4 linked regions of the Homo sapiens genome follow. The protein of the gene in region 2 interacts with the protein of the main gene of each other region in a biochemical or structural test. Each region holds a gene or a part of one and is shown on either strand. Other genes may lie near its edges. The genes, in order: CASR, HACE1, SNTG2 and UBE2L3.

Region 1 (7,034 bases), on a different chromosome or scaffold from region 2:
GACTAATTTTGAAGTCAAAGCTAACTAGAGAGCAGGTATATGTATTTTGAACTAATCTCTTGGCCAAGAAACTTTCCATTTTTAACTGTGTTACTGGCACATGGTAGGTACTCAGAAACTGATAAATAATTTTATTACATTACTATTTCTAGGAATAAAAGCACCCCATAGAAATGAGAGGATAGGGCCGGGTATGGTGGCTCATGCCTGTAATCCCAGCACTTTGGGAGGCTAAGACAGATGGATCACTTGAGGTCAGGAGTTTGAGACCAGCCTGGCCAACATGGTGAAATCCTGTCTCTATCAAAAATACAAAAATCAGCTGGGCATGGTGGTGCATGCCTGTAATCTCAGCTACTTGGGAGGCTGAGGCAGGAGAATTGCTTGAACCCAGGAGGTGGAGGTTGCAGTGAGCTGAGATCGCCCCACTGCACTATAGACTGGGTGACAGAGTGAGTGAGACTCAAAAAACAAACAAACAAACAAACAAACAAACACAAACAAAAAAAAAACCAGAAATGAAAGAATAGGAGAATGATAATATGAAAAAAAAAGGTCGAAGATTTTCAGAAATGAAAAGGTTCAAATAAAAAGATACAATGTGAGGGGTGATGAAAATTAAAGAAGGAGTGGATTAGAGTGAGGCTACCTGCTCCCCTCTCCAAAAGTTAAAAACTTTCCAAACTTCAAGTTGTAACTTTAAATTTTAACTTGACTGAGCATATTTATAGTAAGAAGTTCACTTCTTCAGAAAGCTAAATAAGCTATGTGTGTTCATTTTTGCTGGTGGACAGGAGTTCCATGAAATCTGTATAAGCTGGAGAGGCAGCTGGATCGTGAGAAGAGCAGAGAAAAGAGGTGATCCATGGATCAGCCTTACCATCATCGCCTGGGAGCTCGCAGGAACTATATACATTTGGCCCCCACTCCAGACCCGCTTAATCAGATTTTCTAGGGGATAGACATTGGTAATCTATGCATTAAGAATATTCCCCACCTTAAAGTTTGAGAGCCCTGGGATGGAAGATTTGGGAAAGTTTCTTGGCCAAGAGATTAGTTCAAAATACATATACCTGCTCTCTAGTTAGCTTTGACTTCAAAATTAGTCTTTTTCAAATGTGTAAGATTGTTATTAATTCATAAAGAGAATCTTGGAGATTCTGCAAGAAAGGTAAAACTGTGGAAAGGGATTAACATTGATTATATCTGCCAAATACAGTCACAGTAAATGGAATAAAGTAGATCTGTGTCAGTTCACTGATGTTTTGTTGCTATTTAAGTTACATAAAACCTTTAGTTGTTTAGAGCTTTGAAGATTTTGGAAGTGTAGACCTGTATGAACCCATTTAAGCCACATAACAGCCCTATATGTTAGATACTCTTATCGTCCCCTTTGTACAGATGAAAAAAGTAGAGCCTGGAGAGGTTCCAAAGTTACAGGGCAGAGTTACATGACAGTTACATGACAGAGCCAGAATTTGAATCCAGGTGGTAAGACTCAAAATCATGCTTTTAGCTGCTAGCCTATGCTGCTTCCTATCCACCACACTGTATTTAACCATTCCCTTATTATTGGATTCATAGGCTTTTTCTTGTGTTTCAGTTTCAAATTCTCACTGTGAAGAACATCATTGGGCATAAGTCTTTAACCATATTTCTGATAATTTCTTAATGATACAATCCCCAAAATGAAATTCTTTGGTCAAAGGCTGTGAACAGTTTTAAGGCAATTGTTTTCCAGGTAATTTGTTATGACAGTTTCCATTGTGCCCCACTCCACTAGCATTATCTTCAACATCTTAATGTTCCTGATAAGGAAATTGGTATATCATTGTAAAAATGTTTCCCTTATTGAAGAAAAGTTAAAATATTTGTATGTTTCACCACCCATGTGATTGTCTTCATTTGAAAACCATTACAACCTTTGGCTACTTTTTTGAAACCATGGTCTTAATGTTCTTCCTATTAAATTCTATGAGTTCTTTATATTCACAAATTTGAACCTTTTGGCTTATTTGTTGCAAATTTTTTTGAGTTTATTTTCATTTTAATTTAATTATAACCTTTTATATACAAGTATTTTAAACGTTGGCCAGGCATGGTGGCTTATGCCTGTAATCCCAGCACTTTGGGAGGCTGAGGTGGGTGGATCACCTGAGGTCAGGAGTTCATGACCAGCCTGGGCAACATGGTAAAACTCCGTCTCTACTAAAAACACAAAAATTAGCCAGGCATGGTGGTGGGCGCCTGTAATCCCAGCTACTTGGGAGGCTGAGGCAGGAGAATTGCTTGAACCCGGAAGGCAGAAGTTGCAGTGAGCCAAGATCGCACCGTTGCACTCCAGCCTGGGTGGCAGAGTGAGGCTCCATCTCAAAAAAACAAAATGAAACAAAAAACAAAAAAACCCAAGTATTTTAAATGTTTATGTAATGAAATCTATCAATATTTTCCTTCATGATTCTCTGCTACTTTTATACTTAGAAAGAACTTCCTCATTCTTACAAAATATCCACTGCTCCCCTCTCCAAAACATAAAAACATTCCAAACTTCAAGTTGCAACTTTAAGTTTTAACTTGACTGAGTGTATTTACAGTAAGAAACTCATTTCTTCAGAAAGCTAAATAAGCTATGTGTGTTCATTTTTGCTGGTGGACATCCTTTGAGTTCTGTGAAATCTGTATAAGGTGGAGAGGCAGCTGAATCTTGAGAAGAGCAGAGAGCTAGGAGTAAGTAGAATCAGCAACGTTAACCAGATCTTTTACTTATAGTTGCACTTTCTTTGGCAAGCCAACCTTTCAGTACCCTGGTTTCCTAATTTGTAAAATGGAGATAATACCTTCCCTGCTCAGCCGCCTTATTTATCTCCTGACATGTTCTGGGAATCAAATGAATTAATATTAAGAGGGTGCTTTGTCAATTGCTGACTGTTATACCAGTCTATATACTGAGATTTGTTCATTCACTAAGTCACTCATTCATTTGTTCATTCATTCATTCATTCATTGATTCATTCAGCTCCTCCAGTGTACCAGGCACTATGATGGATTCTGGAGTTTCAGTGTTGAATAAGACACGCTGTCTATGCTTGATGAGCTTTAACAACGTGTATTAGCTCATATAAGTCTTTTAACAACCAAAGAGGTAAGTAGTGTTAATTAACTGCAGTTTACAGATAAGGAAAATGGGGCATAGAGAGGTTGGACAACCTGCCCAAGGTCACGAAGCTAGTGAGCTGTCAAACTGAGATACAAGCTCGGGTAGTCTAATTCCTGGCCCTAGGCTATTACCACTGCAGTGTACTGCCTCTCAAAAGATGAGGATGAATGGAAATTGGTTGATAATTGCATGGAGTATAAACTTTACTTGGACTATTTTCATTTTTAAGAGTGTGAAAAGAGAAGATCACCTAGCCTCCTCACTACCTTTCCCCGAATCTCTTAATCGACAAGCACTTAGCACATAAGGGCTCTAACTGGCAGGGGCTTGGGGCACTGGGATGAGTAGACCCAGATCCTGACCCAAAGGAGTGCATGATTGGATGGACTGGAAGCCTGAAGCTGTGGTAGAGAGCCTCAGCCTGAGTGTCACTCCCACCACCATCAGCTGTTTAAGATCAGCTTGCACCCTCCACCCCACTTCTCTTCCTACCCAGTCTCTCTCACAAGGGCTACCAGACTGGAGATCTGGGCACCACAGCTGGCGTCTCTGAGTACACAGTGCCAACTCAACATCTGACATGCAGTTGGGACCCAACTGGTGAACAAAACTAAACTAAAAGCTTATGTCAAATTATAGAATATTTAGAAAAACTATATGAAAGATATGATAATTCTTTCAACCATCAACTTCTGTTAAGAGGAGAAAAGCAAAACTTTGTTCCTAAGGACAAACAATTATTGAGGGGTACAACTGCAATTTCTTTGAGCCTGCTTCTTTCTACCTACATGAAAAACAAAAGATAAACAAAAAATATGCTTAATAGGAACTCTACCAACAGAAAATATGGGAGGAAGAAGTCAAATTACTCAATTTTTCTATTTGTTAGTAATTTTACTTGCATGTGTGTGACAGACTTGTTGAAGGAAGAATGGCTAAAATTAGTTTCCTCTCTGCAGGTATCATATTACCTTTGCCCCCATCATCACTGATAAGCATTCACTGAGGGTGGAGGAAAACAGGTTTCCACCCTGGTTCCCAGGGAAAAAAAATCAATCATAGATGAAAAACACATTAAAACAAATTAATTCAGGTTACTTAACCCAAGAAATCTGCATGCTTCCTGCTTTTTCAATGTGAGGAAAGACCCTGGGGATTAACTGAGCCAAAGGATATCAGCTAGTTAAGCACCCACCATACGCCACACATTGTGTTTAGCACATTTAACTCATTTAAACTTCACAACCGCCCTGTGAAGGAGACATTACCTTAGCTTCACAGATCTCAAAGGAAGGTCCACCACTAAAAACTGAGGCTCAGCTAGGTTAATGTCATGCTGAAGGTCAGAGATAGAAAGCCCACCTTCCACCAAACTAGACTGTCCACGGCAGAGGCTGATCTTGTTTTCCTCATTTCATATTTGACCATCTCACTCATTTGGCTCTGCCTAATTATAATGTTCATTTCTGTGGCTTTGAGTAATAATACAGTTGTTTGAGCAACTGAATCCAAAAGCACACCCTTAATCAGCACTTCCTAGTATCCACCTTTGGTGGAAACAGTAATAAAGCTCTCGGCAGCTTTTCAACAAACACTATCACACATGTCTGTATTGTTTCCTGCCTTATGAATGGATACTGTGGTTACCAAGACTGCATTGCATGATGAAATAGGAACTACCTGAATCCTCTAATTCTCATGGACTTTAATAAAGTCCATGTGGACACCTCAGTTAGTGCTTATTGTATATGAGAAGACATGAGAAAAAGGAGAAAAAAGTGAATCAGGCTGGTGTCAGGCAAGAGTTGAACCAACAGTACCAGGCATGGAGTGAGGGTACATCTGTCACTTCAAGGCAATGACAAATAGGTGAAGTCTAATGTCCACCCACTTTGAACTGAAAGCCTCCCAGAAATAGAGAGAGAGAAAAAGAGAGAGAGAGAAGATGGATATTATATTTGGTATGGATTAACTGATCCTATTTTATGTTCAGACACAGAAATGGTCAAGGGCTCTTCTGAATCAGAGATAGCATTTTTTTTGGTACCGATCATGAAGTTCTCTGTATACAAGCACTTCCCAGATTCCTGATCCCCAGTCCTGGTTGATACTCACTTCTTCTTTTCTATCCCAAGATCACTTGAATGACAGAGTCAAAGGATAACAGACCAGAATCTCAGGCTTCACCTCTTCAAATCCTCTCCCTCACTGACCACATCTAATGAGTAACTTAGTTCTGTGGTGGAGTCTACTTTGACGATATCTCAAGCATTTAGCTAGTTTTCTCCATGGCTGCTGCCATGACCGCCATGGTTCAGGCCATCATTACCATTATCTAAATGGTTATAATGTCTCTAAATATTTACTTTGTTCCAAATGAGCCCCCTTCAACTCAGCATCCACATGCAGCCAGAGTGATTGCAAAAATGCTCACGAGTCACTCCTCTATGTAAAACCCTCCAGCAGCTTCCTTTGCCCTAGAATAAATAATGAATAGCCAACAATTCCTGAGTACATAATCTGTGCATATCTTATCTGAATCTTTGCAGCAATCCTATGAGGAAAGTATTACCTTTATTACCATTAATTACTGTGGCTAAATTACTTAACTGAGGTCCCACAGCTAGAAAGTGGCAGAACCACGACTCAAATCTTTGTTTCTGTGACCCCATCATGCATACTTTAGCCACTTTGCTAGCCTCCCTACCTCTTGGCTCCTTATGCTTCAGCTCCTTGAACCACTTGCAGGTCCTAGAACTTGACATGATGTTTCATGCCTCTGGTTTAGTTGTTGTTAATTGCTTGTTTTTGCACATGAATCTCTCTCCCATTATACCTTCTTCTTTTGTCTACCTGGTGTCACTCCTCATCTTTCAAGATTCAACTCAAGCGTTACCTCCTCCAAGAACCTTTCCCTGACCCTTCCTCCTTTGGTAGAATTGACCACTCCCTTCCCTTATACATGAACGTACCCTGATTATGCTTTAATTGTAATGAACACAATACTACCTGCACATGGATGAGCATGACTCCCTCTCAGACTTCTATGAACTCCTTAAATGTTGGGACTCTGTCCTAGTAATCAGTTTTAATTATACTGTCTAGCACAGCTCTGAGCACATACAAGGTTTACTGTAAACACTGTCGAATGAATAAAAATATTTGTTTGAATGTTAAATATGTTGCTTCAGTGCAATTGGTGATTTTTTTTCTTTACTAAAGAGCTATATATGAATCTTTGAAAAGGATCATGCAGCTTTAGAATAATTGAAAAATTCTGGCATCCTCCCAATTAGAGCAGTGGCTAGGGATGGAAGGAAGATATTACAGCCCACCTGCCACACCTATTTTCACCTAAAGAATCTATTTAGTGATAACATTGAACAGTCAGTGTATAAACCACATTTGGTATCAGGGTTATATATATATTTACCTTATTAATGGGAATATGGATGATTCACATTTGAACTGCAATGCACACATTTTATTGTACACAATAAAATAAGTGGATAAGCATAAAGTTAATTGAAACATTTAATTATAAAGCAAGAATACAGCAATGGCAAACCATGACCAACTGAAGACAATGCAACTGATACTGTGATAACAAAGCATTCTTTCCCAAAGTGCCAAAAATGCCAAGTTGGCACATGTGCTCATGTAGTACAGCAAATGTCACATGGCAGTTAGTCTTCTTAATGACTAGCAGCCAAACACCATTCCTAGTGGATACATTCTGGTCCTACGTAAACAACAAATATATCCTCAACCTTCCTCTCCATCTTTGAATCTTGGCTCAAGGGAGATCTCCTTGAGAAAGGCTTCCCTGGTCTCACAGTTCAGTCTGTATACACCCTCAAAGAACTTCGTTTCTTTC
Region 2 (7,034 bases):
ACTTTTTGAAGCACTTTACAATGCATTACCACATACAATCCTCACAACACTATGAGAAAAAGGAACTTTTGTCCCCATTTTACCAAAGAGAAAAATACATTAAAAGCATTTATACTAATGCTCTAATACTCAATACCTAGAATGCTCAATAAATAGATACTGTTCTTATTATCATTCACAGCAATGTTAAAATTATTGTCAATAACTATTTAAAAGAAAACTTACTGCCCATTATAAGATATTAAACTATATCATTTATCTATGAAATGTGAACCAAGAAATAAAAACAAATGGAACCTTTTCAAGTAATTCAAGTGGAACATTAAAAGGTACAAACTGCTACCTTCAAAAGCTCAGATCAAACACACACACACACATACAAACACCTACACAGCCAAATGGTACATTTTTGTATGTAAACTTTCTAGAGTACCTGCATTTCCATAAATAATTCACAAAACAGGACTGATTATAGAGGCTCCTCTTAATAGCATTTGTACAGCAATACAAAATGTTTCTCCCTTTAACTACTGGCCACCTGAAAACCACCAACAGAAGAAGAAGTCAATCCCTTAGCAGAGGTAGTTGTTCTTTTTAACTTTCTAGAGGAGGACAATCTCCAAGTTACAGAAAACTTCTAAGTACAGTAGAGTACAAAGTATTTTTTTTTCCTCTAATGTGAGAGCAACTTGCCAATATAATGTCCAGTCCCCTATAAACACTTAGGCATTTATTTCCTACAAACAAGGGAATTTTCCTCTATAACTAGATAACAACCATCAAAATCAGAAATTAACTCTGATAACACTACTACATCAGATCCCATTTCAAGTCTTGCCAATTTTCTAATAATGTCCTCTTATTGCAAAATGATTCATGAACTGCCTTTAATTGTCCTGTCCTGTCTCCTTCACTCTGGTACATTTCTTCAATGTTTTCTTAATTTTCATAACCTTGATAGTTTTAAAGACTGCAGGTCTTTAAAACTGACTGCAGGTCAGTTAATTTTGTAGAATGTCCCTCAACTGTATTTAGTCTGATGATTCCTCCTGATTAGATTTAAGGTGTGTATCCTTGGCAAGAATACCACAGAAGTGATGCCATGATGTCCTCAGAGCATCCTATCAGCTGGCACACTGCTATGTCTGCTTTGATCACTGCTAAGCTTCTCTACTGTAAGGCACCCTTTTTCTCTTTGCAATTATTCTGCTGGGAGATAATCTGAGACTGTGTAATCATCCTACCCTTCATCAGACTTTCCATTTATTCATTAACTTTTTTCAGTACAGACTCATAGATTCCTGTTTATGTTGCCATCATTATTTATTTTGATGCTCAAATTCTTCCAAATTTGGTAGTGGGAGTCCATTCAAGCTGTCTTCCGAGTCATGTTAACATAACCCCATCAGTCTTTGAACACTTCCTTACTTTCTTACACAATAAGATGTTGCAGGCTTATTTTATACTTTCCCTGATCTAGCCCTGGAATTAGCCATTTCTCCAAGGAGCCCTGGTTCATTGAGAATGGCACTGAGAGACCAAGAGCTGGGTGCCAGGTTTGCTACATGTATCTATGTAAATTTAAAACTAAATTCAAACTGGTAACTCCAATTCAACACAAGGTTCCTTCTAATTTCCTCCATTTTGTAACTCCTTTCTCCAACAACGAGAAGTTAGACTCTCATACTTGCTTATTTGATCAACCTGCAACCCCACTCCCTTGGTATGTAACCAATCTCCAATCACTGACATGGCCCCTGCATCCCACTGAGGCTCCATCAGACAGCACTGATCAGCTGCAACCACCGCCAACATGGACATCCTCCTTATGCCACTCTAACCCACATGACTCACACTGGGACCCTCTTCTACACAGACACACTTCTTAATCACATCCAAACTCCAAAACCCCACACTAGGCCACCACTACACATGTAGACACCCTCCTCACCCTAGTCAGGCAACAAACACCTCCCTCTCTGGGTCAACAAAGTGGATACCTAATACAGATGTTTTTTGACTAAATTGTCCAGGAAGGGAAAAAGGAATAGAAAGTAAAAAGCAGAGACAGTATTAGGTTGGTGCAAAAGTAATTGCGGTTTTTGCTATTTTAATTTGACAATTTTAATTTGGCAATTAAAAGTAACTGCCAAAAACCGCAATTACTTTTGCACCAACCTATATTAAAAACAGCAGACTATCTCTCAAAAACTAAAATCTTCTTTCACCTATTATCTCATTTGCCCCAGAACAGTATCATACAGTGTAGGTTAAGAAATTGAACTTGTCCGGGTGTGGTGGCTCATGCCCATAATCCCAACACTTTGGGAGGCTAAGGCAGGTGGATCACTTGAGCTCAGGAGTTCAAGGCCAGTCTGCGCAGCATGGCAAAATCCCGTCTCTACAAAAAACACAAAAATTAGCCAGGTGTGGTGGTATGCACCTGTAGTCCCAGCTACTTGAAAGACTGAGCTGGGAGGATCGCTTCAGCCCAGGAGGCAGACGTTGCAGTGAGCTCAGATCAACTATACTCCAGCCTGAGTGACAGGTAAAACCCTGTGTCAAAAAAAATAAATAAATAAAATAAAGAAAGAAATTGAACTTGAGAACCAGACAGACTTTTAAATTCTGGTTCTCCCATTTAGTAGCAGAATGACTTAAACAAGTTACTTAACCACTTCAGCTTACAAAAAAAAGAGTAGCCATCTTATACAATGGTTAAGAAAATAAAATCATTCATGGAAGCAAATACATAGTACCTGACCTAAAATCAGTAAATGTAAGTCATTATTACTGCCTTCTCTTTCACATTATCATTATTAAACAGATGTCAAAAGATCCCTCTATATAGTTATGTATAATTTTATAAAAATTAGTTCATAGCTTAACTTCTGAAAGGACAAGTGTCCCTAAAGACATTAAAAACCACTTATCCTATTTATTATCTTACAACTACTAACCAAACCATTGCCTACAGTCTGTCCTACATATCTGGCAAATTATTTTCTAAAACTTTGCCAGAATTATGCCATTCTCCTAAAGCAAGGGTATCAGTGGCTCCTAACAGCCTAGCAAACAAAGAAAATTCTTCAATCTGGAAATCAAGGCTCATCATTGGATGACCTCAATCTACCTTTCCATAACTCTATCTTGCTCCTATCAACACAAAATTTCTGCTGCAATACTGCAGTTTTACATACTTTTCGGTCTACATGCTCCAGCCCACATGGTGGCTAGAAAGTTCTCCCTCTTTGTTTACTCCCATCAAAATGTTGCATATTTTTTCAAGCTTTCTCAAGGTAACTTAAAATCTGCCTCCTCTGAAATTTCCCCTGACTACAGATGCCAGAGCCAGCTCTTCCTCCCTTAAACTCCTAAAGATCCAGGTTATGTTGTAGTTACTATTTTATACATATGTTTATTATCTCCCCAGCCAGACTGAATTAGAATCCTCTTAGAGAAGGGAAGTAAGTTTTCTATCTCCAAAACAACTACCATTTATTGAGCATATATCACAGTCATTCCTGACAATTTATTCTGGACAATAGTTCTATGAGGCTGCTGTCATTATCTCCATTTTGTAGATGAAGAAACCAAGGGCTCAAGGATATTAGGAAACGTGCCCAAAGTTCACATAGCTGGTAAGGAGCAAAACAAGCTTTCCTCCAGCTAGCTTCATGTAACATGAGATGTATGGAATGAACAGGTACACATCTGGTAGGGGAAAGGTGGTCAGGTCAAATAAGTTAGGAGGATTAACAAAGCTAAATCACTATTTTTACTGAAGGGCTTCTCAAAGCCTTTTAACATGCTGCCAATGTGATTTATAAATTTCCAAAGGGCATATGTTATGTAATTTCCCAAATGTATTTGGGGGCTAAAATCCTTTTCAAAAGGACAATCAGCCTTATAGAACTAAAGAGTTTCATTAAGCTCCTTTCAGGAAATGTGGCAATGTGTTCTGTTGTTTTTGTACAGACCTCTGTACATAGTAGGCACTCAGTACATATTTCTTGAAGAAAACTTACTCCTCATATTAAAGTAACATGCAATCATTCCTCTTACAACAGAATGTCTGAAGTGTAATAATTATTCCACTAAACAGTATTAGAATTTTAGAAATTAATTTCATTAGATAGAATAAAAAGATGAAGAAAAATTTCTACCTGTGCTTTTATGATATGCATGAATCTTGACATCAACTCAGGACATTCAAGGAGAAAGTGAAAGTGGTCAAATATAATTTTGGGATTTCTAAAAGAAAAATATTTTGTTTAAATGGACAGGAAGAATGAGTAGCATTAAGTGAAATGCAAATTCAGATACACTGACACTGAAACAGAAGAAAAACACATAATAATCCATATCTATTAAAGTTTCATTTGTTATTGAGCATATTTTGAATAGTACGAGAAATAGTATTTTTTCTGTTTAGATGAAACTGTAAGTAAAGAGAGGAAAGGCTAGCAGGGTACTCCACAAACCCAGAAAGCTTACCTATTAACAAAGCATTTTAAAACTTCATCATGTTTGCAGACAAATTCAATGAAACGAGGTGAAGTCATTCTGTGGGGGGAAAACATCAATCAGAATACACAGGCAAAAGTTTGTGATATAATATAGCGAACTTGATAAATATATACTGAACTGGACTGGCTTCTAAACCAAAAAAAAAAGAATTTGGTTTTGAATCTTCTTTGTAAGTTTAGGAAACTGAAGTATGCCTAGCCAATTTGTAAAATGATTCTAACTTCTCATCAGCAGACGATATCAACAAGTGACTTTTTAAAAATCTTGAAATTTGGTGCATTTCTGCTCTACACATTTCAAATACATAATTAAGAGATCCTATACAAGGTGACATTCACCATTCTACAAAGTAATAATATATACTGCTTAATATTTAAATATTCCCTACTAGATCTAGATTAGTATGAGTATCTTAAAACAAGGAGAAAACTTTAAATCAACAAATTATTATTTGTTGTTTTTGAAATTACAAAAGTATCACTGCTTTTCATCATCTATCAGAGAAAAAAAAAATAATAAGCCAAAACTTTCTTACCCCGGAGGCATCTGACAAGAACAGCACATGTAAAAAGCTTGAATGACAGCACTTAGCCGGTTAGCTGTCATAGAAATAACATCCTGACAATCTGCACTGGCTTCCTGTCTCCCTGCAAGAGCATCTGGTTTAGATTCCCTTGTGCCAGTGGACAGATTTTCATAGCTCCCAGGTCCTGGAGGTTCAAATGGAGGAATGGAAGCAGCATCTTGATCTTGGCCTTTTTGTTTCAGTAAAATAGAAGTGATCTCTGTTGAGTCTCTTTTGTTTTTCATCAATTCTGTGGCTATTAAAACTAGCCATTCATCTAACGAGTGCCAAAGCAATTCCAGAGGCTGAGAGAAACAAAAGTGTTTTTTAAACATCATTCTTAAACTACAGGATTAAAAAAAAAAAAACAAAACACAACTAGACAAATATTATAGAAGAGAAAATTTACTCTAGTCATTTCTATCTTCCCAAGTTAACGTGATAGTAATGCCTAAAGGTAAGTAATAAAATTATACAAATGCTACATAAATGACAATTTCTTCATTTATGGCAATAATTTAATTTGTATGTATGTATTCCTTGTAATAAAAAGGAAAAACTAAATCTAACAAAAAATTCACAATCTTTCTTCTTTTAATTTTCAAATGTTTAGTTTTAAAAGCACACATTACTACTATATATAATCACCCTTAACATTTACTGTATTAATATGATCAATGTCAACCACTTTCAATTAAACAAATAAGATTTTTTCAGTTAAAAAATGAGAACCCCTAAGTATAATCACTCAACATTTTCTGTATTAATATGATCAATGTCAACAACTTTCAATTAAACAAATGTCTTTTTTCAATTAAAAAATGAGAATCCCTAAAGAACCTAATGAACAGCTTTTTTACTGTGCTCCTTTCATTACATATAATTCCTAGAATTTGGATAATTTTTGACAAGAAATTACAAAATGTGGCATATTTATGTATATACATATACTTACAGACACAATCCATTTCTAATAATTAGTGTTTTTTTAAAACAAGAGATACAATTACCAAACTTCTATTAAAATACTGACTAGCAGGCCGGAGATGGTGGCTCACGCCTGTAATCCCAGCACTTTGGGAGGCCGAGGTGGGTAGATCACTTGAGGTCAGGAATTCGAGATCAGCCTGGCCAACATGGTGAATTGAAATCCCATCTCTACTAAAAATACAAAAAATTAGCCAGACATGGTGGCACACACCTATAATTCCAGCTACTCGGGAGGCTGAGGCAGGACGATCACTTGAACCCAGGAGGCAGAGGTTGCAGTGAGCTAAGATCACACCACTGCACTCCAGCCTGGGTGACAGGGCGAGACTCCATCTCAAAAAAAAAAAAAAAAATACTGAGTAGCAAATTCTTAATTCCAAGTAAAGATTAACACCTTTCTATTAAAAAAAAAAAAGATGAGGAGAGAATAAACTATTTCCTATTATTATTCTAGCTGGGTACACAGGCATGCACTTGTAGTCCCAGTTACTGAGGAGGTTGAAGGGGGAGGATTGCTTGAGTCTCGGAAGTCAAGGCTACAGTGAGCTGTGATCATGTCACTATACTCCAGCCTGGGTGAAAGAGTGAGATACTGTCTCCAAAAAAAAAAAAAAAACAAACAAACAAACAAAAAAAAAAACCTGCTAGGATATTTTTAATCCCAAATAAAGATTAATAGTTTATAAGTGGTACAGTGGTTAAACAATCCCTTCATCCTACACTATTTTAAATATTCTTATTGAGAATGATTAGCTATCCTTCTGCAAATAAATATAAAAGTTTATCTCACTTTTTGAATCTGACATGATTACAGAATGCTACAAACTACACCATGTGCTACAGAAAGACTCACCTTTAAAATATTTCAAGGAAAGAAATAATCTTTCTTTTAAAGACCGCCATGGAAGGAGATTATACAACCATATTTGGAACCTTAGAAAATGTTTGA
Region 3 (7,034 bases), on a different chromosome or scaffold from region 2:
CTCTACTTCTCCGGTATTTATGTTGAAAGCAAAATGATTACTGCTATCATCTAAAGAAAACAAGCAGAAAGGTCACCTTGTCCCAGAAACGCTCTTTCACTTTGCCTTTTAACGACTTGAACCTTTAGTGCTGATGGTTTCTAAGTGGCTAAATGCCACTATACATTTGAGTAAGTCCCTGAGATGAAGGATCCTATGTTTAGTAATTTTCTTTCCAGCATGTAATGTTCTATAATGGTTAATGAATTGGATGCTTCAAATATAAAGGTTACTTTAAGCATCAGGAATCAACCATAATTCCAATTTAGGGTGCCCAATTTGAGGGGAAAATCACAGCAGCCTGGGATAAATGAGAATAAACATTGGCATCAGTTTCTATGAAGATCTGGGTGTGACTTCATTCTGTGGACTAAGAGATCTCAGTGTGCATTAGTTACAGGGAAGCTTCGTGCTCTGTGATGGCATGCCAAGGAGCCTGGATACATTTTGACAACGTGAATGAAAGATAAATAACACAGAATAGTTTCACATTCAAGGTATATATGTATATTTAAATGAAGTAGCCATCTTTAGTTACTAAGTTCACACTCAGCATTCTCCGCGCTCAGCCAGGCGGGAGCCCTGGACTTTGGTGTGAAGTCAGAGCTCCTCTGGGATGCGCTGCCTCATTTATCTCCTGTCACTCTTCATTCCTGCAGCACACATCCTCCCTGAAGGATCATCCCGCTATTTAGGATAAGGAGGATTATAATGCATTCTTCCTCATCCCTTCACATGGTATACATTCAAATTTGTGAGTGATGTATTTGCTGTTGTCAGGAAGAGAAAAGCAATTCAGACACACAAGCTGTTTTATATTCTCCTTCGGACCATCAAGTTTGAGAGGAAGAACCATTAAAGTGCCTTAAAATATTACAAACATCCAAGTAACTGCACGACACATTATACTCATTTGTAAGCTAGGTGTTCTGTCTCCCGGAGCACAGGCTAGAAGTGTCATCACTTCTCAGGAACTTGAGCGCCACATCGGTGGAGTCCCTTCCTGGAAAGCGATGCAGCCCGTTCCTCACATTCAATGTAGACACAGACACAAAATCCTCTCCTCCCCTTCCCTTCCACTACAGCTCATATTTATCCACGGAGCGCATGACTCCGTGCGAACGATCATTTCCACACAGTAGCTCCGGTGAAAGATTCTCACCTTCTGAAGATTCCTCTTTTCCCCCGATAAACTGCTACATATTCCCCAATGCTATGTCTCAGACACCCGAGCAGGTGTAGGTGAGAAGAGTGTGAGTTGTTCACTTACCCCGGTTCTCTGAACTTCCATGAACGTGGCTCTTTGGAAGGACTTCTCCCACATGGCCAGCTCGCTGCCAAGCTCCACGTTGAAAACATGGCTCTTCCCATGGCCGGCCACGATGCTGAAGCAATAGGGCCTCTGGTCCTCAAAGTCAAAATCTTGAAGACCCAGATACAAGTTTGCTTGCAACCAGCAGTCCTCTGTGAGCCAGAACTGAAAAACAGAGCATGGATTGGAAACGTGCAGCGCTGGAAGGTCATTCCCATGCTGAGGGCCCTGGTGTGGGGAGAAGGCAGCGTTTGCGTGATCTGGGAAACGGTCTCCTGGGTGCAGACAAGGAGGCAAATTCAGAGCAATGAGCCCTCTCATGCACAGCTGGTGCGGAAGTGGTCCACAGACAAATATCTGTAAATAAATTTTGTCAAATGCTTAATTCTCTGTAAGTGCCTTTCCCTTAAAATACTGGTCACCACACACTTTCCTGTTTTACGGTGAAGAGAAAGATGAAGCTGGGTGTGGTGGCTCACGCCTGTAATCCCAGCACTTTGGGAGACTAAGGTGGGTGGATTGCTTGAGCCCAGGAGTCTGAGACCAGCCTGGGCAACATGGCAAGACCTTGTCTTCACAAAAATAAATGAATAAATAAAATACAACAAATTAGCCAGGTGTGGCAGCACACGCTTGTAGTTCTAGCTATTTGGGAGGCTGAGGTAGTAGAACGGCTTGAGCCCAGAAGCCCGAGGTTACAGAAAGCCAAGATCACACCACCAATGCACTCCAGCCTGGGTGACAGAGGGAAACCCTGTCTCAAGAAAAAAAAAAAAAAGATAAAGATGAAAGTCTTGAGACATTGATGCTTGTGTTTATCATAAAACCAGAAAACACTGAAAATACCACCACCACTCTAACTAAGCGTGCCCCCTGCGCCTCCGAGTCTCTATAGAATTACTGGCTCTTCCTCTCCTTGCGGGTTCATTGTCCTGAGATAAAGGACCGAGTGCCCAAAACGCCTCTGAAGCATGACAAGGCACCCGGCCACCCAGGAGCTCATTCTGCCAACCCAAAGGCCTGACAAAGGGAATGATGTAATGATGTTGTTCCATTTCTGGTTAATCGTTTAACCCAGAGATGTAAGTTACTTACAGCACGTCTATTAATCACTCGGCGATTCGGATGCTGCCAGCCTGTGCTGCATGGAGCAGCCTGGGGAGCTCCCCACTTCTTTCCCCCATCTGCAAGGTTGCACCCCACTTCGGGATTCATTTTATCAAGGGCAGAAGAGAAAGACTGGGGGTCCCAGTTGTCACAATTACTAGGTCAACAGCATGGAGGTGCATGGTGAACGCGCACTCAATACCTGGCTGGCACCTCTCTGTCTCTGTCTGTCTCTCTCTCTCTCTCTGTCTCCATTTCTATGTCTCTGTCTCTCTTTGTGTCTCTTTCTCTCTCTCCATTTCTGTCATTCTGTTTCTCTATTTTATGTCTGTTTCTCTGTCTCTCTCTATCCTTCTCTCTGTCTCTGTCTGTCTCTCTCTGGACCCACCTCAGTTCTCAGCTCACCCATTCATTTACTGGTCCACAGATCCACCCTGAAGAGCCCCCACCAGACACCTTCCTGGGACGCTGCACCCCAACATCAATTTTGCTGCACCAGTCTCTCCCCAGTGAAGGGAAACAAGGGGAGACACCTGGGCTGGGGTTTCCAAAGTCCTGAATGAGAATGTGGTGTTCACCCACAGCCCTGCATATGGCAGCAGAAAGGAAGGGGAGCTGCCCACCTGCTGGGTCTTCCCATCATGATTCTGAGATATCTCCATTCACTTGTGCCAACCAGCCAAGCTGGACAGTCCCCACTCACACTTACGCTCAAGGTCCAGTCCCAAAATCCACATGAACTCAGCAGTTGGCCAAATAGTTTTACTTGAAATATGCTGACACATGCACTCTAGGCACAGGTTTGAGGTAAAAGCTACGACTGGTGTGTCTCAGGTGGGCCTTCTGGACTCTCCGGGGGGATGCCCTGGCTCTCCTGGCCCCGCAGATGGCTCTGCAGGATGACCCTCTGATCATGGAGAGCATTGCACATTTATCCCTGTGCATCATCCAGACATCAAATGCCTTGTGGTGTGTGCACGTGAGAACATGTGTGTGTGTATGTGTGCACATGAGAATGTGTGTGCACACATGAACATGTGTATGTGTGGAAATGTATGTGAACATGAATGTGTGTGTACGTGAATGTGTGTAGTGTGCATACGTTGCTAACCCTAAATGAGCCTTGAGTACAGAAACTGCACTTTAATTCTGGGGCCCTCTGGATCGTCTCCTTCAGCTGGGATACCTGGAACCTATAGGGTTACACGTCACAAACCAAGAACAACATGTTCATCATTGACCTTATGGTGCAGAAAGTATCTCTTTATCCACTGAACTTAAATGTCAAAACTGATAAAGAAAAACTTTTGGAAGATATTTATGTGGGAACGCACATCCCCCATTGAATGGCTCATTATAGTTGGGCCTTGAACAACCCAGGGGTTAGGGGCGCCAACTCTCACGCAGTTGAAGATTCATGCATAACTTTTGACTCCCCTAAAACTTAACTACTAGTAGTCTATTGTTGATCAGAAGCTTTACTAATAACATGAACAGTCAATTAACACATATTCTGTATGTTATACGTATAATATACTACATTCTTAGAATAGAATAAGTGAATTCAGGCACAGTGGCTTACACCTGTAATCACAACTAATTGGGAGGCTGAGGCAGGGGCATCACTGGAGCCCAGGAATTTAAGACCAGCCTGGATGACACAGCAAGATCCTATCTCTAAATAAATAAATGAATTAAGAAAGTAAGCTAGAGAATAGAGAATGTTATTGAGAAAATCACAGGGAAGAGAAGATATACTTAGAGCACTGCACTGTATTTATTGACACCATAAGTTTACATCATCTGTTTATGAGATGAATGGTCTGAAATGGTGGCAACCACGCTGCAGACCTCAATCTGTGGTGCACAGCAAACAATTCAGCTTTTTGGCAATGCTGTGATATTCCCGCTTCTTGGGGCACTTGCAACATCCCTTGTGGCACTTCGTGTGGGTCCCGGGGTGTTATTCAAGGTTTACGTTACTGGACTCAACACGAAGGAGGGAAGGTACACAAGAACTCTGAGAGATCACTCGTTACCATGCTCTGCAATTTACTGGAGAGAGAAATTGCTTCCACAGGGATGATTAAGACATTTTACTCAGAAACCCATGTCACACTATGTGCTCCAGTTAACCATGGGCAGGAATGATTGAACGCTGCATCTTTACCTTTGTCTATATTCCTCTCCACTGCAGATGGTGCCAAATTGATTGATTTATATTTTACAGGAGTAAATGATGAAATAGACTAGTATCTACATATATTGTATGAATTCACGACATCTCTAACTTTTTCTTAATGTTTTGATATTTTTAAGCTACACAGTTTGTCTTAAGAGGTTTTTACAATTGTTAAATTGTTTTCAAAAAATTTTCCAACATACTTATAGAAAACAATTGGCATACAAATGAGCCCACGCAGTTCAAGCCCATATTGTTCAAAGGTCAATTGTGTTTCTTTCCTATCACTTGCTATATTTGGGCAGCTGTGTATTATAATAGAAGAACACCAGGTTTTGGAGTCAGATAAAATTTGAGGCCTTTCTTTGCCCAGTATTAGCTGTTTGATCTTGAGCAATTCACTCTCTCAGAGCCTCCACTTTTGAGCTGTGAAATGGAATCGTGATAAAAATGTTGTCATAACTTCACATGACAGAGTGGCCAGCATGCAGGGCTCACATCCCGGATTCACATGAGTTCACTACGTGCTTTCATAAAGACACACGTCCTAAGGCAATGCTGAGCCAGGCCGTACATGTCGATTTGATGTCTGCTTTGCAGCTACCTGGCTTCCTGGCAGGGTCAGCTCTGGCAATATCCAGAACAGCATTTCCAGCCACCCCCACGACTGAAGAAAGCCCACCCCCCACCTAGGACTGCAAGACATCATCTTATTATGTTCCCTTTCCTGAAAAAAACAAAAAGGGTTGTATTCTAAAATTACATATTTTTTCTATTTATATTTATTATGAAACAATTATAGCAACAATAAAGGGAATTTAAAAGATAAACTTATTACTATGTTTTGTCATCTGATTTTTAAAAATATGTCAATAATTATTAATATAACCTTAATAATAGGACAATAATTAATATTCTCTTTCATGCAATGTGAATTTGTACATATAACTGTATAAATTTATAGTAGAATTACTTAAAATATGTTGTAAGATTTTAAAATATTTCTCAATGGTCTTTTGATTATTCTTCAAATATCATTAATTTAAGGAATATCCTTAAACATTCTCATACATATAGCTCTTTGATTCCTCTGAACTCAGTGTTGTAATGGACTCTTCTTTAGATTCAATTCTGAGGAGTGAGACTGCTTGATCAAGCAAGGGATTGTTTTTCCACTGTTTAGCCTCACAAAGAATGTGTTGTAAGTTCTACAAAAGGAAAATTAATTATTCATATATAGCTCATTTCCCCAGATAGTTCCTGTAGCTCCTTTAAAAACAATCACTCAGACCTTGTGGATCGCAGTGTGTTGATACGACTGGAAACCCTGAGCACTGAAGTTCAAGGTCAGCGGCTTGCCGTCAACAGTCAGTCAGCGGCTGGCTAGGCCATCGGGTTTCCTCGTCTGGACCGAGCCTTCGGGTTTCGTCGTCTGGACCGAGCCTTCCGGTTACCTCGTCTGCACGGAGCCTTCGGGTTGCCTCGTCTGCACGGAGCCTTCCGGTTGCCTCGTCTGGACGGAGCCTTCCGGTTGCCTCGTCTGGACGGAGCCTTCCGGTTGCCTCGTCTGGACTGAGCCTTCCGGTTACTACGTCTGGACTGAGCCTTTGGGTTTCCTCGTCTGGACTGAGCCTTTGGGTTTCCTCGTCTGGACTGAGACTTGACCCGGCTTCTTCCCACCTCTGGGACCTGGAACTCCCTATCTTTAGAGCATTTGCTTTAGAAAATGTATTATTGTATGTTCTTTCTCTGCCATTTGATACCTGAATCTTTCTAGAAGTCTCTTGCTGGCTGTACAACCCAGGACTGTCTTTCTCAAGGAGCTGGGAGCTGTCCCTTCAAAATGTGATCACTGGCAAGATGGCGTCATCTCCTGTCCCTGTGGAAGGATGGAGCCCAGCCTTGGTGGGTGCTTGGCTCTAAGCTGTGCAACCACCTCCTGTCATGAAGATGGGGGAAGCTCTCTGTTTCTTTGCAGGAGGCCAATTAACAGACAATGATGGCCCTAATCTCCTTCCCATCCCAACTTGTAGAAACCCTCTCATCCTTTGTTTCAGTGGAGTTGAATCTCTGAATCTCTCTCTCTCTCCTATCATAATAGACTTGAATAAGGTCTTCTTGCCTTCTTCGCCTTTAACTCTGGTGCAGTTTTGTCCTGACATGGCTTTAGGAAAATCATTTAGGAATTCTTCCTCTCAGTGTTGATATTATCCAAACAGGACTACCCCGAAGATCCGTGGAGAACACGTTCTAGAACTCTTAACGGCCACTCGCGACAGGCTCCCGGAACACCACTGCTTCTAGCACGTGGAATAGAGCGGGATTCGGGATGAGCTTTGCAGCCACGTGAGTCTGGGCCCCATCCCTGTCTCTGCTTGGCTTCTGGAAAGTCCT
Region 4 (4,855 bases), on a different chromosome or scaffold from region 2:
TGTTTTATTTATTTACTTTTGAGACAGAGTCTCGCTCTGTTGCCCAAGCTAGAGTGCAGTGGCACGATCTCGGCTCACTGCAACTGCCGTCTCCCGGGTTCAAGCGATTCTCCTGCCTCAGCCTCCTGAGTAGCTGGGACTCTAGGCATGGGCCACCATGCCTGGCTAATTTTTGTATTTTTAGTAGAGACGGGGTTTCACCATGTTGCCCAGGCTGGTCTTGAGCTCCTGACCTCAGGTGATCTGCCTGGCTAGCATTTGCATTTTAATCCATTTCTTGTAATGCTGAATGAACAATATGAGCCCTTAATAAAGGAATTGACCAGGTGCAGTGGCTTCATGCCTGTCATCCTAGCACTTTTGGGAGGATGAGGCGGTAGGATCACTCAAGCCCAGGAGTTTGAGACCAGCCTGGGCAACATAGTGAGACCCCATCTCTACAAAAAACTAGGCCAGGAGCAGTGGCTAACACCCGTAATCCCAACTACTCTCAAGGCCAAGGTGGGAGGATTGTTTGAGCCCAGGAGATAAGACTGCAGTGAGCTGTGATTGCACCACTGTACTCTAGCCTAGGTTAAAAAAAAAAATTAGCTGGACGTGATGGCATGTGCTTGTAGTCTCAGCTACTCAGGAAGCTGAGGCAGGAGGATCATTTACACCCAGGAGTTTGAGGGTACCGTGCAGTAAAGTATGATTGAGCCACTGCACTCCAGTCTGAGTGACAGCAAGACTGTCTAAAAAAAATAAGAAGGAATTTGTGGCATCAGCAGTTCGGAGAAGAGGGGCACTGTTTTACAGTGGGAAGGAACATTCTGAGGGTGCTGGTCCTGACAGGGTCAGGGGGCAACTGTGGCAAAGTATGTGAGGAGGTGTGGGTAGCAGCTGCTTCTGATTCCCCACTATCCTTCCACCCTGGGGCACGTCTGGGCTACGGCACCTAGGGGGAGTACTGTGGCACCCATCAGAGCCATCAGCGTGACATCTGCCTGTGGTCTTGACAATGTGATGCGATGGCGGTTGTCAGCTTCCCATTGGCTGGCCCCAGTGACCCTTTCTAGAGGGTTCAGAAACTCCTAAGGGTCTTCCAGAGTTGGGTCATTGCGCATTGACAAGTGCAGCGCCATCACATACCCTTCTCTCTAGTGCCCACTCAGTCACCTTAACCGAAACTTCCCTGAGCCGAGCATGGTGCTGGGTGCTGGGCTGATGCAGGGAAGTTCTACCCGGTCCTGCCCTGAAGAAAGTGACCCTGTGTGCATGCATGAGAGTGAGCAGTCAGTTCAATACTAGGCCTCCTATCTCCAGAGTACACAAGAGGACTGGATTAGCCGGGCATGGTGGTGCACGACTGTAGTCCTGGCTACTTGGGGGACTGAGGCTGGAGGATTGCTTGAGGTCAACCCAGGAGGTTGAGGCTGCAGTGAGCCAAGATGGTGCCACTGCACTGCAGCCTAGGTGACAGAGTGAGACCCTGTCCCTCCTCCCCAACCCCCCGCCAAGAAAAAAGGGCTGGGAGTGACTGAGGGCTAAGACCTCCCCAGGTGTTAGGTCAGGAAGGCTTCCTGGAGGCGGAAGCACATCACTGTGAACAATTATCCACTGTAGTGTTAGCTATTTGTTGTCCATCAGTGTCTTCTAATCACAGAGGAAAGATGAGTTTTCTGGCAGTCAGAATTTTGGATAAATAGGAGGCAGCTTTGGCTTAAAAGCACATTAGCTGTAAATCAGTTGTAAAGCCAGAGTTTTGTTCCCGGATTAGCTGCCTCTTGCCTGTGCCATTTCTGAGACTGTGTTAACCCCCCATGCCTTGTCCTTCTCTTGGCAGTAATCCAGTCCCTCATAGCACTGGTGAATGACCCCCAGCCTGAGCACCCGCTTCGGGCTGACCTAGCTGAAGAATACTCTAAGGACCGTAAAAAATTCTGTAAGAATGCTGAAGAGTTTACAAAGAAATATGGGGAAAAGCGACCTGTGGACTAAAATCTGCCACGATTGGTTCCAGCAAGTGTGAGCAGAGACCCCGTGCAGTGCATTCAGACACCCCGCAAAGCAGGACTCTGTGGAAATTGACACGTGCCACCGCCTGGCGTTCGCTTGTGGCAGTTACTAACTTTCTACAGTTTTCTTAATCAAAAGTGGTCTAGGTAACCTGTAAAGAAAGGATTAAAAATTTAAGATGTTCTAGTTCTGCTCTCTTTGTTTTAAAAATCACTGCTTCAATCTACTTCAAAAGAATGGTGTTTCTTTTCTTGTCCAATTTTATCCAAAATCTTCAAGTTACATTTAACCCATAAGGTTTAAAAAAAAGGAAAAAAAACGGTTGTGGTTCCCTTTCTTCCCTACCCTTGCCACTCCCACTTTCTGGCACCGAGTTTATTTTTCACTTACTTACTTCCCCAGACCCCGGGCTCGCCTCCACAAAGGAGAAGAGACTGCCCTGGCGGTCCTGGTGGCTTTTCTTAGCATGTGTGGCACTGTTGCCCAGTGTGGGAGTTGGTTTAAATTCTCCTGACTCCAGTTTATAACATCCTTTTAAAAAATTTAAAAACAAACAGCCACACCCCTCCTCCAGTCCTTCTCCTCAGTTCTTGTGTGAAACTCCAGCTGATGTTACCACAGTAACATCAGTTAATTGGGCAAGCCCTGATGTCAGTGTGTGTAACTGACCTCTGGCCTGGCCTGCACAGAGAAGCCCTATAATCACAGGTCTGTGGTGGCCCCGAAATGGGGGGCCTGCTAGTCAGGAGGATGCTGTGCACACTGTGTGTGATGAATCTCGCCAGAAAGGCTCCTGAGGTCCCAGGTTGGCACTTCTCCCTGCAGCCATTGTAGAAGATCTGCTGGTCCTTGCAGGCAAAGCTACAGCCAGAATGTCCGTTTGAAACTCCTAGCTCATCTGTCACCGAGCTTCATCCGAATGTGCCACGGAGCTTGCTCTCCACTTCCTCCGTGCAGTGGCCCTGCCACAGCCCTCCCTCGGCACACTTTGACCCTTTGTAGGATTGGAATTAGCAGGACTCGGCTATTTAAAGCACCAGTCTGGGGTCGCCTGGGCCCCTGCTGACCCCCTCCTCCAGAGCAGCCAGCCCAGCCCGGGAACAAGACGGACTTCCTCTCCCTTCGGACTCACAGCCTTTGCAGAGTCAAGCTCCACTTGAAGCTCACTCAGTAATATCCTTTCAATGTGTTTTATATTGTTTTGACTGCCTTTTTTTGTAGAAATAAAAATTGACCTTAGAATTTATCGTCAGATAAACTTGTAAAGATTTGAATATTAATGTCTTTTCAAGGCAAATGGGATTGTCCCCGCACTAGTAGAGAATCCATGTCGCTCTGACACCCCAAGGAAGCCGACGATCCAAATGCCGTGTGTCACCAACCCCGCTTCTGCCACTGGCGGCTTCCCTTCTTGGCTCTTGGGGGGGACTAGATCCTGTGGAGAAGATGACTTAAACTTTGCTTTTTGTTTTAATTTTAATTCTATAACTTGAGATCTTTCCGGGGCCTACAGGCGTGTAAGACAGCTTGGTCTGGTCTGTGCAGAAGTGGGGAGTGATGGGCAGGTTCGGCAGCCTAACATTGTTCAGGCGCATGGCCCCTGCGGTGTGTACACGAACTCGGCTTCTTTTGTCCTAGGTACGCCAAGGGCAGGTTTCTGGAGACTCCCTTGTGCCCGGGATGGCAAGGGCACCGGGCTGGCGTTTCCACATCTGTCTTCATTAGCAGAAAAGTGATGATGGATTTTATTTCACTCACACTCCAGTTTGTAATAAAATGCCAAATTCTGTCAGCTATCCAAACAAGCCACCATTTGTTCTTGTTGCTTCTCTGGATCCAGAAATGTTGCCATTCTTGGAAACTGTCCCATTGCTTCGTATTTCTGCCAACGTAGCTCTGCCTGCCTGTCAACCCCTCACTGCACTCTGCTCATCACGGGAGGATACCTGTGTGCCGGCAGCCCCTCAGGGACTCTCAGCCCTGGCACTGGCACCCCAGGGTTGGCCCCGTCAGCAGAGGCTTGGCTTTCGAGCCAGTGGGTGTCTCTCCTTTGGGCCTGGGCGGCTTGCTCCTGCCAGCCATGCCTTCAGGGTAGGCTCTGAGCAAGCTGGCGAACAGCCCTGGCTGCTCCAAAACCAAAAAGCTGGGTCCTCTGGAGGAGGGGCGAGCTGTGGAGCAGCCACCCACTGCTGCCCCAAGCTCACTCAGGAATTCACACCCGCCTGGTTTCTTGAAGTGTGCTGGGTCCTTCCCTCTGCTCCCTACTCCCCACCACGGCAGAGAATAGGCTTTCTAAGATGCTGCGATCCCGTTCTGCTGCCCGTAATAAAAATGCTCTCAGACACTGGTTAGTCGTGTGGGTTTCTTCCTTCCTGGGAGCGGGCAGTGCCAGGGGCCTATGCTCTTGGAGATGGGAGGGCTGGCTGGGGCCCAGGTCCTGGGGCTTCTGATCTCTCTCCCCATTCCCAGCCTCTCCAAAAGAGGTACATAGAAGTGTTCCTGCCTCCCTAGAGGGAAGGAGATGAGGTATAATCAGCAAGAAAGCCGGAGACTTCAGACAGTCGGGGCCTGCAGAGGGCGCTCTTGGGCGTCTCGTTGAGGGGACAGGGACTAAAGTGTGGGTGCATCACTTACATGCGTGGGTCATCCTGGAGCCTCCTGGGAGTGTTAACAATCCATGTTTAGAAGAGGCAAACCTGCGGTCCCAAGAGGTCACAGAATTGATAAGGGTGTGCCTGTGGGTGGAGCTGGGCCATGTCCATGAATGGTGCCAGCCAGAAACACTCTGAGTCCCCAGTACAGCCCACTGCCAGGGTGCTGCGGCAGTGGTGCTAACTCAGCAAGGGCTCAGCCAGAC

The links.
Region 1: the proteins of HACE1 (region 2) and CASR form a complex in vitro, tested with the Homo sapiens proteins (one study listed by BioGRID).
Region 3: the proteins of HACE1 (region 2) and SNTG2 form a complex in vitro, tested with the Homo sapiens proteins (one study listed by BioGRID).
Region 4: the proteins of HACE1 (region 2) and UBE2L3 form a complex in vitro, tested with the Homo sapiens proteins (8 studies listed by BioGRID, with this or other methods).

What each region holds. Positions count from the first base shown.
Region 1 is NC_000003.12:122,186,668-122,193,701, reverse strand, and holds part of CASR (extracellular calcium-sensing receptor isoform 2 precursor), read right to left. Parts: intron 1-7,034. UniProt on the Homo sapiens protein: G-protein-coupled receptor that senses changes in the extracellular concentration of calcium ions and plays a key role in maintaining calcium homeostasis.
Region 2 is NC_000006.12:104,779,920-104,786,953, forward strand, and holds part of HACE1 (E3 ubiquitin-protein ligase HACE1), read right to left. Parts: intron 5,401-7,034; coding exon 5,066-5,400; intron 4,567-5,065; coding exon 4,498-4,566; intron 4,255-4,497; coding exon 4,167-4,254; intron 539-4,166; exon of another isoform or gene 434-538; intron 1-433. UniProt on the Homo sapiens protein: E3 ubiquitin-protein ligase involved in Golgi membrane fusion and regulation of small GTPases. Acts as a regulator of Golgi membrane dynamics during the cell cycle: recruited to Golgi membrane by Rab proteins and regulates postmitotic Golgi membrane fusion.
Region 3 is NC_000002.12:1,261,847-1,268,880, reverse strand, and holds part of SNTG2 (gamma-2-syntrophin), read right to left. Parts: intron 6,987-7,034; exon of another isoform or gene 6,860-6,986; intron 6,546-6,859; exon of another isoform or gene 6,463-6,545; intron 1,517-6,462; coding exon 1,310-1,516; intron 810-1,309; coding exon of another isoform or gene 786-809; exon of another isoform or gene 1-785. UniProt on the Homo sapiens protein: Adapter protein that binds to and probably organizes the subcellular localization of a variety of proteins. May link various receptors to the actin cytoskeleton and the dystrophin glycoprotein complex.
Region 4 is NC_000022.11:21,619,690-21,624,544, forward strand, and holds the end of UBE2L3 (ubiquitin-conjugating enzyme E2 L3), read left to right. Parts: intron 1-1,825; coding exon 1,826-1,980; 3' UTR 1,981-4,345; downstream 4,346-4,855. UniProt on the Homo sapiens protein: Ubiquitin-conjugating enzyme E2 that specifically acts with HECT-type and RBR family E3 ubiquitin-protein ligases.